Linked DNA regions of Homo sapiens: region 1 is linked to region 2. The links come from fine-mapping of genetic effects on gene expression. A gene starts in region 2. The other region holds a variant in brackets. All regions are shown on one strand. Distances are between the middles of the regions.

Evidence for each region. PIP is the estimated chance that this variant, and not a neighbour inherited with it, causes the effect.
Region 1: its variant is fine-mapped to the expression of TMEM184B in whole blood (TOPMed, PIP above 0.99). The same link has a PIP of 0.9 or more in gastroesophageal junction, subcutaneous fat, thyroid and tibial nerve.

What each region holds. Positions count from the first base shown.
Region 1 is chr22:38,220,990-38,226,305 of GRCh38, reverse strand. TMEM184B (transmembrane protein 184B) reads left to right here. Exons shown (of 9, transcript NM_012264.5): 7 at 713-882; 8 at 1,327-1,521; 9 at 4,596-5,316. The coding sequence ends at 4,837. It overlaps SNORA92 (small nucleolar RNA, H/ACA box 92), which reads left to right and starts at 1,586; the gene lies at 1,586-1,827. RefSeq lists enhancers at 1,147-1,647, 3,063-3,563. The variant C/T (reference allele first, on the strand shown) is at 2,256.
Region 2 is chr22:38,270,865-38,276,230 of GRCh38, reverse strand. TMEM184B (transmembrane protein 184B) reads left to right here and starts at 3,221. Exons shown (of 9, transcript NM_012264.5): 1 at 3,221-3,347. RefSeq lists a silencer at 3,069-3,698 and an enhancer at 3,761-4,470.

The sequences.
Region 1 (5,316 bases), 50 kb after region 2:
AGTTCAAGACCAGCCTGGCCAACATGGTGAAACCCCATCACTACTAAAAATACAAAAAATTAACCGGGCGTGGTGACGGGTGCCTATAATCCCAGCTACTCGGGAGGCTGAGGCAGGAGAATCGCTTGAACCCAGGAGGCAGAGGTTGCGGTGAGCCAAGATCACGCCATTGCACTCTAGCCTGGGTGACAAGAACAAAACTCCATATCTAAAAAAAAAAAAAAAAAAAGTGACCATGTGTCTAGCCCTGTGCTTTCAAGCTCTCGGCACACACTGTCTGTGAACTGTGTAACAGCCCTGCCAGGGCAGGTGGGCAAAAGGAGGTCAGGGGGATGCAGCCGACCGAGTGAAAAGGCAGCAGAGCTGAGCAGCGTCACCTATTTTGACGCCTGTTATCTGAGTGTCAGGCTATGGCCTCGGGCCCGGCCCTGGCTTCCACACTGGTGTCCAACGTTAGGAGTGTGGGCACCAGGGCTTAGACAAGTCCACGAGCCACGCAGAGGCAGTAGAGCTGGTCTGGCCTGCAGGCGCACCCCATGTACCCCCACCCCTGTCTGTCGCTTTGATCACCCATTCTGACCCCTTCAGTGGCTCGTTGAGCTCTGCTGGAGGTGTGGGGCTGAGAGCCATGGGGACTGTGTGTGGTGCAGTCGAGGAGAGCCCCTTCCCTCCAAGGGTCTGTCCCAGCCAGAAAATGCTCCCCGTCCCGCAGCGTCACCAGTGGCTACCTCTACGTGACCATCATCTACAACATCTCCGTCAGCCTGGCCCTCTACGCCCTCTTCCTCTTCTACTTCGCCACCCGGGAGCTGCTCAGCCCCTACAGCCCCGTCCTCAAGTTCTTCATGGTCAAGTCCGTCATCTTTCTTTCCTTCTGGCAAGGTGAGCCCCCTCCCAGCACCTGGAGGCTGCCCATGCCACCCTGTCCTCTGCGCTTCCTGCTGCCCCTTCTGCTTATGGTCCCTGGTGCCTGTAGGGCCTGTTCAGAGGGGCCTCAGCCCACTGGGCACTTGCTGGGGGTGAAATCTGAGCCCTCGAGGGCCTTTCCCAGGGGCTAGGGAGAGCTTTGGTGGGGCCGCTACATGGATGAGAGGGCCCAGGAGACCCTGCGTAATTGCTGGCATCTCAGTTTCGGTGGCAAAGAGCTGGGAGAGTGGGGTTTCCGGAGGCTGTGGCCTTGTGTCGCTACCCCTGCCCTGCAGGAGCAGCTGTGGCCCTGCTCACATCCTCACTGGGGCATGTGGGCAGCTGAATGGGGCATTGTGGAAGAAGGGGGAGCAGGAAAGGAATCATTCTGGGTCCAGACACCCGTGCCTCCCCATCCAGGCATGCTCCTGGCCATCCTGGAGAAGTGTGGGGCCATCCCCAAAATCCACTCGGCCCGCGTGTCGGTGGGCGAGGGCACCGTGGCTGCCGGCTACCAGGACTTCATCATCTGTGTGGAGATGTTCTTTGCAGCCCTGGCCCTGCGGCACGCCTTCACCTACAAGGTCTATGCTGACAAGAGGCTGGACGCACAAGGTATGAGCCAGGGTCCTAGGCGACCCCCGCTGGGAGAAGCAGGGAGCCCCAAACATCCCAGGACCCTCCCACCTCCCAGCATCCTACAGGTGCGGCTGGGTCAGGACATGGGATCCCCACTCTATATGCAGGAATGGGGCCACAGAGGTCGGGGAAGAGCAGGTGCCACCAGCACGACCGATTCGGTCCTGGAAGCTCAGGCCACCTGTCCCTTGCAGCAGGTCCAAGTGTGGCGGTCCAGGGCTGATACAGACAGAGACTGTAATGAATAGACAAATTCCCTCGGGCTTCTAACTCCCAACACTGTGGTTACCATTTTGTCCTGTAATTCCCTCATCTCATATGCTATTTTTTAAAAAAAGGATACTTCTGGCCGGGCACGGTGGCTCACGCCTATAATCCCAGCACTTTGGGAGGCCGAGGCGGGTGGATCACAAGGTCAGGAGATCGAGACCATCCTGGCTAACACGGTGAAACCCTGTCTCTACTAAAAATACAAAAAATTAGCCGGGCGTGGTGGCGGGTGCTTGTAGTCCGAGCTACTCGGGAGGCTGAGGCAGGAGAATGGTGTGAATCCAGGAGGCGGAGCTTGCAGTGAGCGAGATTGTGCCATTGCACTCCAGCCTGGGTGACAGAGCAAGACTCCGTCTCAAAAAAAAGAAAGAAAGAAAAAAAAGAATACTTCTGAGAAACAGACTCGGATGGTAATAGGTTTTAACAGCTTTCTTTTACAC[C/T]TGCGAATCTTCCTCCTTGCTAGAACAGTGGTAAGTAGCCCCAGTTGTACTGGAAAATGCCCTGGAGAGCTTTTGGAAGTGCTGATACCCAGCCCCACCCTCGGAGATCCCGCTGTAATGGGTCCGGGCTGGCAGGCTGGGTGTGCTGTGAGAGTTCTGTGCTTTAAGCACTCCCAGGGTGATGTGAAAGTGCTGCTGCCCGGGACGCTCCACTGGGCTGGAAGGGCTGCCTCTGGCCACTGGGCAGAAGGGGGTTGTCCTTGGAGGATGGGGAAGAGGAGGCTGGGAATGCCTGAGACTGATTGAGCCAGTAAAGGGGCAGGAGGGACTGGGGAGAGGGGAGCCTCCTTCTCTGACACATCCACCCAGGAGCCTGGCTGCTGCCAGCTGTCTGCCCGAGTGGCTGGAGGCAAGAAACCCACTTCCCCAGGGCCTACCTGCAGGCCCCACACAGGCTCCGTGGTGGGTGGTGTGGACTGTAGAAATGTCTGCCTGCAGCGGGGCTCCGCGGCCCACTTCCCGCCCCCCTTCCTCTGTGCCTTCCCTGGTGGGGGAAGACCTACTCTGTGCCCAAAGAGCAGGTGCACAAAGGCCAGGGGTTGCCACCTGGTGGCCCAGTTGGAAGGATCTAGCAAACACACACCCAGCATTGAGGGCAGTGTCCCTTGGACCTGGTGTGGTATACCCTGTGCCCGTGGGAACATCATCCTTGGGCCTGGGGCCTGGGGCCACCCCAAGGAGCAAGGGGGCCCATGGCAGAGAACCATTCCTGCACCACTGGGGCTCAGCAGAGGGGCTCTGCTGCCTGGCCTGAGCTGTCCCTCTAGACATACCCACGCCCGGCCGGGGAAGCTGCTTGCCCTCTTCTGCCTCCCCACTGGTCCTGAGCCCCCTGCTACCCTCTAACCCAGGCCCAGACCCTCAGCCCTCAGGATAGGCTTAGGTGCAGAGCTGGCTCAGCTGTGCGATTGTAACCCCTCCCTCTGAGCCTCCATGTCCTGGTCTGGGAAGTGTTGTGAGGTTTGTAAAATGTGAGGTGTGGATGTGGCCCCAGGCTAGCCGGGGAAGAAGTGGGGATGGGACGTCCTGACCTAGACGTGGAGGCGGAACTCAGTCGCCAGACGGATGTTTCCTGTTGGCGTGAACACCAGGGGAGGAGTCATCCCTAGGTGGATATCCCCCCTGCCAGGCCCCAGGAGGCACCTGGAGCTTCCTGGGTGCCCTGTGGGGCCTGGGGGGGTGGGGACAGGGTGTGTGGTGTGTCGTGCTGGTGGGCCTCGGTGGTGGGCACACATTGTTCACTCAGCTGTCTCTTGTCTTCTCTATTTCTTTGGCTTCTCTCCCCGCCCCCCTTGCCCTGCTTTTGCCCGGGGTTTGGCCGCGGGCAGTGCCAACATACGGCCCTTACGGTAGGTCCCGCTCTTGGTCTGCATGTCTGTCCTGCATGTCAGTTCTGGTCACTGTCACTGGCATGCGTCTCTCTGTAGCTCTTCTCCGTGTCCTCATCTCCTCCCCACCGGCACCCCCTGGGTGGGAGCGCCCAGAGCACCTGTCAAGGGCCACCCTCTGTAGAGCTTGCCTGCTTCCGTCCTCGTTTCTCGTTCTGGAATATGCCCCGCCTTCTTCTGGGGGCACAGTGCTGTTCATGGGATATCGGGGCATTTCACGATGTTTCCAAGAGTTCACAAGCTGAGTCAGGAATCCTGGGTTCCAGGGGTGGGCTCGTCCCTTACATCCAGGTGTCCTGGGCCACCTTTCTGCTCTGAGCCCCTGAGGATGGGGACAGTTGATTAGAGAGATGAGGAGGAAGCCCTCTTAGAGGGAGCCAGTGAGTCGCATCTGCTCCCCTGGGGGTGCAGGCCAGCCTGGTCCTGATCTCCAGAGTAGAGGGAGCACAGCACTTCCCCCGGTGGTGGGGGACGCGCCTGGCACCTGTGGAACCGGGCACCCCTGGCTTCCAGGCCCTCTGGCCCCACATGCCCCAACTTCAGTCAGTGCTGAGCCTGCTCTGGCCTCTCTGGGGCATTCTAGGCTCACTGCCCATAGCTTGCCAGTCTCCACCCTGGGTCCCTTCCCTGCAGCCAGCCCAGCTCCCAGTGGGGGTTTATGTCTGCTCCTCTTCACAGTCCAGCCTCCCCTTGGGGCTCCCCAGCCAAAGAAGTCCATTTTTTCCTGCCCCTTCTCATATCCTGGACCCCATTCTCTGTCCCAGAAGGGATGGTTGAAGGGCATAGCTTTGGGTTGGGGGGTGTCTGTCCCAGGATCACGGGCAGGGGCTGAGCCACCTCCCTCTCACCGTCCCAGCCTCCTCACCTGCCCCTCCCGCTCCCTGCCCGGCAGGCCGCTGTGCCCCCATGAAGAGCATCTCCAGCAGCCTCAAGGAGACCATGAACCCGCACGACATCGTGCAGGACGCCATCCACAACTTCTCACCTGCCTACCAGCAGTACACGCAGCAGTCCACCCTGGAGCCTGGGCCCACCTGGCGTGGTGGCGCCCACGGCCTCTCCCGCTCCCACAGCCTCAGTGGCGCCCGCGACAACGAGAAGACTCTCCTGCTCAGCTCTGATGATGAATTCTAGGTGCGGGCTGCAGTGGCGGAAGTGCTGGCGCCATAGCCACGGTCAGGCTGTGCCCCACCTCCAGCCTCACCACCAGGCCAGGAGGCAGCTGGCACAGTGCTCACGCCGCCTTTATTTATTGGACCAGAAACACTCACATGTCACTTCCAGAGGAACGGGGGACAGCCAGGCTCGCCCATGGGCCTTCAGGAATATTTATACATGGCCCAGCCTGCACTGCCCGGGCGAGGGCAGAGGACACTGGGAGCAAGGCTTATGCCCCTGCTGCCCGTCCTGTGCTGGGGGCATGCTGGGACCAGCCGCACCCAGGCCCCAATGCTTGTGTGTGGACCAGCGGCTGCAGCCTTCTAGCCCCTCCTCCCCGCGAGACTCTCAGGCTGAGGTCGGCAAGCCGTGGCTCCCCCACACACCGTGCAATACCCTGTCTGACCTGGGCTCTTCCCGCCTGCATCCCTCCCCTGTCCACCTTTGTCCAGTGC
Region 2 (5,366 bases):
ATATGGTGGGTAATTGGGACAAAGACTTCCTCCTGAAGGGGTTAGTGTGTAGGGAGGGAGAGCTGGGAAGTCATAAACAAGTTACAATGCAATTGATAAGCCTTACTCTTGTTAGGACAGACCCAGGCATGTCCTACCTGGGGCTGGGGAGGAATCGTTCTATAGGATTTTGCTATTACCAGATCTCTGGTCATGTTATACCTACTTTTGCGGGGGCATGTTCTCTATGCCAGACCCTGTACTAAGTACTGGGATTACATCAGAAAACAAAAAGGATACTTGGGAGGCACAGGCAAGAGTATCGCTTGAACCTGGGAGGTTGAGGCTGCAGTGAGCCAAAATTGCACCACTGCATTCCAGCTTGGGTGACAGAGTGAGACTCCATCTCAAACAACAACAACAACAAAAAAGCCAAAAAGGATGAAAATCTTTCTCTTCAGAATTTATTGGCCAGGCACACAGTGGCTCACACCCGTAATCTCAGCACTTTGAGTGGTCTAGACGGGCAATTGCTTTGAGCCCAGGAGTTTGAGGCCAGCCCTGGCAACATAGCGAAACCCCATCTCTACAAAAAAAAAAAAAAAAAAAAAAAAATACAAAAATTAGCCTGGTATGGTGGCACATGCCTATAATCCCAGCTAACCAGGAGGCTGAGGTGGGAGGATCACTTGAGCCTGAGTGGCGGATGTTGCAGTGACCTGAGATTGTGCCACTGCACTCCAGCCTGGGTGACAGAGACTGTCTCAAAAACAAAAAAACAAAACCGAAAAATTTTGTGTTCTACTAGAAGAAGACACACAGGGAAACAGGCAAACTATATAATATGATAGAAATGAAGTGACAGGGTGGCTCACGCCTGTAATCCCAGCACTTTGGGAGGCTGAGGCAGGCGGATCACGAAGTCAGGAGATCGAGACCATCCTGGCTAACGCGGTGAAACCCCGTCTCTACTAAAAATACAAAAAATTAGCCAGGCATGGTGGTGGGCGCCTGTAGTCCCAGCTACTCTGAGGCTGAGGCAGGAGAATGGCATGAACCCGGGAGGCGGAGCTTGCAGTGAGCCGAGATAGCACCATTGCACTCCAGCCTGGGTGACAGAGCGAGACTCCGCTTCAAAAAAAAAAAGAAAGAAAGAAAGAAATGAAGTGACAGGGAAAGTAGGGCACGGTAAAGGGAAATACAGAGTGCATGTGAGGGGTCTGGTAGTTTTACTAGGGGTGCTCACAGCAGGCCTCACTAAGTGGAGGACATTCGAGCAAACCCTTGAAGAAGGTGATGGAGGAGCCATTCAGGTATCTGGGGAAACAGCGATCGCAGCAGAGGGAACAGCTAGTGCAGGGGGCTCGGGGCTGAGTGTGCTCAGCTTGTTCTAGGAACAGCAAGGGATCAGTGTGGAGGGAAAGGGTAAGAGATGAATGAGATCAGGAATCCCCAGGAGAGTAGAATGTCAGATCAAGTGTTTGTAAGGACTTGTAAGGCTTTTACTTAGAGCGAAACAGTGAGCCAATGGAGGGTTTTGAGCAAAAAAGTACCATGTTTTGACTTCGATTTTATTTTATTTTTTGAGACAGATTCTCATTTTGTCACCCAGGTTGGTGTGCATTGGCACGATCTTGGCTCACCACAACCCAACCTCCGCCTCCCGGGTTCAAGCAATTCTCATGCCTCCAGAGTAGCTGGGACTACAGGCATGTACCACCACACCCAGCTAATTTTTGTATTTTTAGCAGAGACAAGGTTTCACCATATTGGCCAGGCTGGTCTGTAACTCCTGGCCTTAAATGAGCCACCCGACCTCACAAAGTGCTGGGATTACAGGCGTGAGCCACCGTGCCCGGCAGATTTTAAAAGAATCTTGGCTGGGCGTGGTGGCTCACGCCTGTAATCCCAGCACTTTGGGAGGCCGAGGCAGGCGGATCACAAGGTCAGGAGATCAAGACCATCCTGGCTAACGCGGTGAAACCCCGTCTCTACTAAAAATACAAAAAATTAGCTGGGCATGGTGGCGGGCGCCTGTAGTCCCAGCTACTCGGGAGGCTGAGGCAGGAGAATGGCGTGAACCCGGGAGGCGGAGCTTGCAGTGAGCCGAGATCGCGCCACTGCACTCCAGCCTGGGCAACTTTGAGACAAAGAGCGAGACTTTGTCTCAAAAAGAAAAAAGAGAAAAAAAAAAAAGGATCTCCCTCACCCCTGAATTGATAGAATGGATCAGAGGGCAAGGCTGGAACAAGGGAGAGGGGTTAGCAGAACTCTGCAATAATCCTGTGCAAATACTGGACCAGGGTGGTAGCACTGGAGGAGGAGTGGCAGACATCTGAGTCTAGATCTATTTTGCAGGTAGAGCCAACAGGATCTCCTGCCTGCCTTATTGGGTAGCGGGCAGAAGGGGGGCATTCATTCACAGCTGACTCCGAGTTCTGGCCTGGGGACTGGAAGGATGGAATTGTCAACAGCTGATGGAGGCAAAGCTGAGAGGGAGCAGGTTTTTGTGTGTGGAAGTGGGGTTGGCTCAGCTCAGACACGCTGACTTTGAGATGCCTGCTGGAGCTCCAAGGAAGAGGTGTTGGGTAGACAGTTCAGGCGAGGAGTCTGGAGACATAAATACATTTGGGGATCTTGAGCACATCAATGCCAGAACTTAATTGCATTTTATCTTGTTCAGTTAACCTAGGTGATGTCTGGACCGGCAAACAGAAATGGACTAGGCGGCTTGAACCCTATCTGAAGACTTTTGCTAGTTCGGCAGCCTAGAGCCAGACGGGGCAAGAAAGAATCGCTGCTAAGCGGAGTGGGAAAAAAAGGCCTCTTTCAGTGCTTTGCCATTTCATCTGGCCTAATTGCACACAACACTCGGTCCACGTTCATTCCACAATTCCACACGCATCCTTCACTCAACAAATAGCCATTGTATTTCGTTTCATCTTCAAAACAGGCTCAAATGGAGGAAATTAGGGTTAAAAGAAGTGAAGCACCAGCGAGGGTCAGGGGCAGAGATCGCAGCCCAGAAAGCTCTCGCGGTTGGGGGCCGGTCGTAGCTGGTTTTGTGAGTGGCAAGAGAACCCGGGTCGCGCCCCAACCCGCGGGGCGGCGGGCTGGGGTTCGGGGCGGCGGGCTGGGGTTCGGGGCGCGGCCCCTTTAAGGCCCAGGCAGTGATCTCAGCCGCGTCCGCCGCCCCGCCCTCCCCGGCGGCGAGCCCAGAGCGCATGCGCGCCGCGGCTGCACTCCACTGGGCCCGGGACGCGCCGGCGGCGGCGGAGACTCCGGGGCTGCGGCGCCGCCCGCCCCGCCCGCAGAGTCCGGCTGCCGCGCATCGTCCGCAGACGCCGCCACCGCCATGGGCTCCTGAGGTATCCCGCCTGGCCGGCCTCGCCCGGGAGCCCCAAGGGGGAGCTGCGACTCCCGAGCGCGGGGGGCTGCTTGTTTCGGAGAGGCCCGCGCGAGGGACGCCCGGCTTCGGCCGCCGGCTCCCGGGCGGGGAGGGCACTACGGAGGCCGGTGCGGCCGCGGAGGGAGGGGGCATCCGTCTCCCCACCCGTGCCTCCTCTCCGCCCCGCGAGGTCGCCCGTGGGTGTGCCCGCTCCCTTTCCACGCCAACGTGGCGGGGGCAGCTCCTGGAGTGTAATCGGACCTGTCCGGGGGGCGGCCCCGGGAGAGGGAGGCGGATGGACCAAGGCGCTTTGCAAGAGGGATTGTGTGCTCCCGGGTGGGTGTGCTGGCGACTGGCACGGCCGAGTGAGTGGGGGAGGCGTCCGTGCCCTGTGCGGGTGGCAGTGACCTGGGAGGGTGGTCGGCGGGGGGCTTTCGGGGCTGCGTCGTGAGTGGAGGGTGTACACGCCCGCCACACAGGTCCGCAGGTTTGGAAGGGGATCGACTGGGACCTGGGGCTCGAAAGATGTTTGCCCCCAAAGGGACCGTGGAGACTGGTTTTGGGTGTCTGTATCCTTCCCGTGAATTGTACATTTCCTCCTGGGCACACCCTTGGTACCTCGCTTGGATCCACTTACCTCCAGTGCTGGGTGGCTCCAGGCCAAGGCAAGGCAGTTATGCTGGGGGTTGGGCATGGATTCCCAATACATATCCCCTCTGGAGGTGTTGTATAAGGCCAGACGTTTTACTCCTCCCTCCTTTCCAGGGCATTTTGGGGCAAAGCAGGTATTTGCATGCCTGATACCTGTGGTGAGGTGAAGGCCATGTATTATTTATCTGACTGCTGGTGCTTTTGTAAGGAAAGAAGCAGCAATCTGTGCCCTGGAGGCCCTGCGCTGCAGAGTCAGCCAGGCAAACAAGCTCACCTGCACCTGCAGAGGCAGCGCAGGTCTCAGAGGTGTGACTTCGTTGACAGGTTATGCCTACAGTGTCCCTTTCCATCTACCTATTTAGCTTCCTTGGTAGAACCCCTAGGCTCTGCACCTCTGAACCTTGCCTAGGGTGCTGTGCGTATCAGAGTTGGGACCTGGGACGCTGGGGTGGGAGAGCCCCAGCAGCCAGGTATGTGTGCCCACCTGGACAGAAACATTTGATGCCCAAGCCATCAAGGAGCTCTCAAGCATGGGGGAATCAGATTTGGAAACAGGTGATCACGATGATGTGAAAAATACCAAACAAAGGAGTAGAAGGAGTACAGAGGCAGGTTCAGTTCCCGGGGAGGGGGATCGTGGCCGCAGGAAAGACTCCCTCATAAGGAGACGGTTGAGCTGAAGCCTGAAGGATGACTGACGTTCATCTGAGGCTTTTCTGCTTTCCACATATATTTTCCTGTGTAATTTGCACAGCAGCTGTGTGAGTAAGGAACAGTTGTCCCTATTTGCAGATGCGGTAAACTGAGGCCCAGAGGGAATTCATGACGTTCTTCTCCACGATACGTGGCAAGCCTGGATGGAATCATCCTTTAACCAGGACCTCTCTCTTGCTGCCAGATCTTGTCTTGCAACTTACTGAGCATCTACTATGTGCCAGGCACTATGCTGGGGCATAGCGGTCTGATGATCAATGGGACCTGGTGCCTGCCTTCTAGGGGCTCCCAGTGCTGGGAAGATGGACACTGATTTAGTGACCCCAATCTGGATACGAGGCTCCAATAGCTAATGTGGGTGGAGAAGGCGCTGTGAATTCCCCCAAAGCATTTGTGCAGTCGTTGGGATTCTGGATGTCTTATTTGTTGCACCCACGGTGGTGGTGGGTTATTCAAAGAGCCCCTTCTGAATTTCTCCAACCAAGTAGAAAGAAGAGCTTCGAGGCAGAAGGGTGAATGAGCCACTTGTCCTAGTTCTTTCCTATTGGCCGAGTTCTGTGAGCAGGGGCTTCTGTCCGGAGGCTGTTTGCTCCCTCTCTGTCTTAGAGGTTTTGCTCCTGGTCTCTGGCTGGCC